Regions from separate parts of the Homo sapiens genome. Here region 2 is linked to region 1. Evidence: fine-mapped expression QTL. Tissue or cell type: subcutaneous fat. Region 1 holds a variant in brackets; the other region holds the start of a gene. All regions are shown on one strand. Distances are from middle to middle.

Region 1 (2,762 bases):
GGCCCTTTCCAGTAAATTCTGTATTTTTGTGATAGATTGAGCTTTGTACAATGCAAATTGATCACCACCTAAAAATCCTTCGTTGACTCCCCAGAGCTTTCATCCTAAATCGAAACTCCTACATGAGGATATCAAGACCTTTATCATCTGGCTTCTAGAACCTCCCAGCTTCATCTCTTCCTACTCGCCATTTTTCACCCAATCTTCCAGCCATTCTAGACATCAACATTCCTTTCCACACCTCCCTGCCTTAGCTACTGCTCACCACTTCCTCAGGCTAGTTCCTTCAGTCCTCAGCTTAGGCAACGGGTCATCCAGGAGGTCAGCTTAAGGCATGTGGGCAACATTAGAACAAGGATCACATTGCATTCCATTGTCTTTATGTGTCTGCCTCTTCCCCTACTAGACTTCTTGAGGGCAGAAACTGTTGATGTTCATTTCTGAAAACCTAATGCCCTACAGACAGATTGTTATATTTGTTGGAGAAGTTGAGAAAATATGATAATGGAGAACACTTCTTACTCTCTGCTAAGCACTACAAAGGTGTTACATGTATGGCTATATTTAATCTTCATACTGACCCTATGAAGATATTTTTAATGTTTGTTTTATAAATGAAGAAAATGAGGGCCAACAAAGTCAACAAAGGGTCAACAAAGTTAAATTATCTGAGGTCACCATGGCGGAAGCTGTAATGTACCTTCCAAATCCTCCTTCAAGAAAAGACAGGACAGACACAGTAGCTCACGCCTATAATCCCAGTAGTTTGGGAGGCCGAGGCGGATGGATCACCTGAAGTCAGGAGTTTGAGACCAGCCTGGCCAACATGGTGAAACCCCATCTCTACTAAAAATACCAAAATTAGCTGGGTGTGTGGGGGGCACCTGTAATCCTAGCTACTCGGGAGGCTGACGCAGGAAAATTGCTTGATCCTGGGAGGCGGAGGTTGCAGTGACATGGGATCACGCCATAGCATTCCAGCCTAGGCGACAAGAGCAAGACCTTGTCTCAAAAAAAAAAAAAAAGAAAGAAAGAAAGAGAAAAAGGCCTTACTGCCTATTCTGTGTGGACTGTTGTCCATGGTACTCTTTACCCAAGGCTATGTCCTTTGGGGCACATTCAGTGACTGACCCCTATGAGAGATTACCTCAACTGAGTTGTCAATTCAGAGTATCTCATGAGGTCAGCTCAGAGGCCTCCTTTGAGACACAACTTTTCCTCTATCCAATCTCATCCTTCTCTTTCTTTAAAAGACATCAATGCTAAAAGCACTCTTTTTTATAGCTTTTATTTTAAGTTCAGGGTACATGT[G/T]CAGGTTTGTTACATGGGTAAACATGTGTCATAGGGGTTTGTCGTACAGATTATATCATCACCCAGGTATTAAGCCTAGTACCCATTAGTTATTTTTCCTAATCCTCTCCCTCCTCCAACCCTCCACCCTTCAATAGTTTCCATTGTGTGTTGTTCCCCTCTCTGTGCCCATGTGTTCTCATCATTTAGCTCACACTTATAAATGAGAACGTGCAGTATTTAGTTTTCTGTTCCTGTGTTAGTTTGCTAAGGATAATGGCCTCCATCTTCATCCATGTCCCTGCAAAGGATGTAATCTCACTCTTTTTTATGGCTGCATAGTTTTCCATTGTATATATACCACATTTTCTTTATCATGTCTATCATTGATGGGCATTTAGGTTGATTCTATGTCTTTGCTATTGTGAATAGTGTTGCAATGAACACACACGTGCATGTATATTTATAACAGAATGATTTTTATTCCTTTGGGTATATACCCAGTAATGGGATTTCTAGGTCAAATGGTATTTCTGTCTTTAGGTCTTTGAGGAATTGCCACACTGTCTTCCACAGAGGTTGACCTAATTTACACTCCCACCAACAGTGAATAAGCATTCTTTTTTCTCCACAACCTCACCAGCATCTGCTATTTTTTGACTTTTTAATAGTCATTCTGTCTAGTGTGAGATGGTATCTCATTGTGGTTTTGATTTGCATTTCTCTAATGATCAGTGATGTTGAGCTGCTTTTTCATATGATTGTTGGCCACATGTATGTCTTCTTTTGAAAAGTGTCTGTTCATGTCCTTTTCCCACTTTTTTATGGAGTTTTTTTTTTTCCTTGTAAATTTAAGTTCCGTATAGATGCTGGATATTAGACCTTTGTCAGATGCATAGTTTGTGAAAATTTTCTCCCATCCTGTAGGTTGGTCTGTTTACTCTGTTGATAGTTTCTTTTACTGTGCAGAAGCTCTTTAGTTTAATTAGATCCAATTTGTCAATTTTTGCTGTTGTTGCAATTGCAAAAGCACTCCTTAACAAGCCTCATGCACTCTTCTCTCCATCTCAGACTCTGCTCCCCAGGGAATCCTGTGGCACTCACACAGCTAGAAAAACATAGGTACTGAGCACAGGCACTCAACAAAAAAAACAACAAATGTTTCATCTGTTTTTTTGTTTATTTGGTTGGTGCCATTTGTTTAGGGTACTTGCCCTCAAGAACCTCACAATCTAGTCTATTGGCCATGAAGGGGCAGGAAAATTATATTCTAAAGTGCATGGTTTTAAGATCAAGTCAATAAATGTAAGTTTAATTACTTCAAACAGGACACAAACGTTCTCTAAGTTTAAGCTTTGTTTTATTTAACAACGCTTTTAGAAACCCAAAATTTTAGCAATGATATTTTTTCTTCTTAAACACAAGCCTGATCCACATCTTATTTGTTATTTTTCTAAATACCTTTAAAGCAA
Region 2 (2,631 bases), 64 kb before region 1:
AGGAGTACAACTTTGTAACTTAACTTTAGCCTCTGATTGGTTGCAGGCTACTCCTTAATTTACAGAGGGTGTAAACCAAGTAACCAATGGGAAATCTCTAGCGGATATTTAAACTCCAGAAAATCCTGTAACCAGGGCTCTTGAGCCACTGGCTGGAGGCCATTCCCACTCTGTGGAGTGTACAGTCATTTCAATCTCTGCTTTCCTTGCTTCATTCTTTCCTTGCTTTCTTTGTGCGTTTTGTCCAATTCTTTGTTAAAAAAACCAAGAACCTGGATGACTTGTAGTCAAGACCCTCCATGGGTAACATTGGGACTATACAAAAGCCTTAGAAATCGTGGAATGATTTTTCAACCACATTATCTGATTCTAATGATGAACAGACCTGTAGACCGGTCTGAATCTTGGGATTTGCCTATCAAAAAACTCGGCTTTCCCTACTGCACAGGTCTTCAGAAGCGCATGTCTAACAAGGCTAATATTCCATCATCGGGATCAAATTGCTCACCGGATAGTAAAAAGACACTACAGAATTTCAGGGGTTCTCTGCCAATGAGAACTTCTGAATTATGTAGAACGGATCAGCTACTAAGCAGTGTTCTATCTTCCTACTCTTCTAATCGATTGTCATCCCTTAAAGCGCTGCTAATTCTAGAAAACAATCTATAACCTGTTAGAATCAGCGCAAGCTGGTGATGACTACAAGTCCCATGATGCAAAGTATGAGCACGGACCAATGTTGGTCGCAGTTCCTTCTGGGAATTGTAGTCTTCTCCTGTTTGGCAAACTAGGTATTGTAGCCTCCATTTCTCAGAAGTTCAGTTGGAAAACTAAAGATAGTGCAGAGAATGTCGATTTCCTGCCACAAGATTACATTTATCTTCGCTACCTGAGCGCCCAGCCGATCAACTCCAGTCGCTCCTCCGGTGGGCGGGCGCCCATGCCGTGACATCACTTCCGGCAGAGATGTGTGTGTGACGCTCTCTCTCTCTCTCTCTCGCTCTCGCTCTCTCCCTCGCTCGTTTTCTTTCTCTTTCTCTCTCTCTCTCTCTCTCTCTCTCTCTCTCTCTCTCTCTCTCTCTCTCTCTCTCTGTCTCTCGCTCTTGCCCTCTCTCTCTCTCTTTCTCTCTGTCTCTGTCTCTCTCTCTCTCTCTCTCTCTCTCTCTCTCTCTCTCTCCCTCCCTCCCTCCCTCCCTCCCTCTCTCTCTCTCTCTCTCCCCCCCCCCCCCCCCCCGCCCAGTTCGGCCCCTCCTTCCACACAGCAGGGATCTTGGGCCCGGGCAGAGACTGGCTGAGGCGGGGAGCAGCTGCTTTTGGGGCGGGGGTGTCACGTGAGGCTTCTCGCTGCTGAGGGAGGAGGCGAAAAGCTGCGGTTAAGGAGAGTCCGGTTTAACCGTCACCGGGAAGCGCGCTCGTTCGGGATCGCCGAGGGGGCTGAGGTAAAGACTGGGTCATTACCTCAGGACAGGCGGTCGCTGTCCCGGGTTCTCGTACGGGTGACACCTGCAACCTTGATGTCTGGCGGGCGGCAAGGGGCTCCGCGGGAGAGTGGAGAGGCGCCGCAGGAAGCCCAGCCACCTTCAGGCCACCGCCGACCCCACTGTGCGTCTGGGAGGCGCTGGGCGCGCACCGGTCAGCGGAGGCGGGAGAGTCTGTGATCCCAGGGAGCTGCGGGTCTCGCCGCCTGCAGTGCGGAAGACCCGTGACCGGCGCAGACCCCGGCCTTACCTTCCGAGGGTCGAACTGTGCCTGGTATTTGCCTCTTTCCTCCCGCCCACGGGGTTGCTCAGAGTCGGGCCACCTCACCTGAGGTTTTCCAGAGTGAGAATGAACTGAGCGTCCTGGGAGCAACTCCGCATCAGGGTAGAGGCGAAGACGCTCCTAATGAGCACAGCACGTTTTTTTGTTTGTTTGTTTGCTTGTTTTGTTTTTTTAACGCTTGGGTAGCGCTCACATCTTCGGACGTCAGTGGTTGTGTTGATATGTATTGATATGCGACCTCCCCCCAGCCAGGCGGCCTCAGGTAGTAGAGTGGCAAAGGCCAGGTAGATCCCTCGGACCTTGAGAAGGTTGAGATTTCAGACTTACTTGTTTTTGGGGAGGCCGTCAGGCGGAACCGAGGAGCGGTGAATCAGCAGCTAAAGTTTCATGAATCTTTGATAATGGGGAAATGTTGCCGAGAGCCACTTGAGTTAAAAATCTTTTTTTTTTTTTTTTTTGAGACGGAGTTTTCCTCTTGTAGCCCAGGCTGGAGTGCAATGGCACGATCTCGGCAAACTGCAACCTCCGCCTCCCGGGTTCAAGCGATTCTCCTGCCTCAGCCTCCCAAGTAGCTGGGATTATAGGCCTGCGCCACCATGCCCGGCTAATTTTTGTATTTTTAGTAGAGACGGGGTTTCACCATGTTGGCCAGGCTAGCCTCGAACTCCTGACCTCAGGCGATCCACCCGCTTCATCCTCCCAAAGTGCTGGGATTACAGGCGTGAGCCACAGCGCCCAGCCCAGAGTTAAAAATCTTATTTCAGCATCTTTCCAAGTCCAGGTGACTCATTTCTTACCTTTCCCACCAGTAGAGTTTCGTATGAAAAGTTGGGCAGTTATTGTTGTGTGTAGTCTTGTCATTTTGTTGGT

What was found. PIP is the estimated chance that this variant, and not a neighbour inherited with it, causes the effect.
Region 2: it holds the start of LINC02235, and the variant in region 1 is fine-mapped to the expression of LINC02235 in subcutaneous fat (FUSION, PIP 0.95).

Annotation. Positions count from the first base shown.
Region 1 is chr8:81,776,681-81,779,442 of GRCh38, reverse strand. No RefSeq gene overlaps it. Among named protein-coding and RNA genes, the nearest start is that of CHMP4C, 46 kb to the right of the region's middle. The variant G/T (reference allele first, on the strand shown) is at 1,312.
Region 2 is chr8:81,840,930-81,843,560 of GRCh38, reverse strand. It overlaps LINC02235 (long intergenic non-protein coding RNA 2235), which reads right to left and starts at 942. Exons shown (of 8, transcript NR_170320.1): 1 at 890-942. It overlaps SNX16 (sorting nexin 16), which reads left to right and starts at 1,376. Exons shown (of 8, transcript NM_152836.3): 1 at 1,376-1,439. RefSeq lists enhancers at 692-961, 1,393-1,442, 1,370-2,302 and a silencer at 1,773-1,822.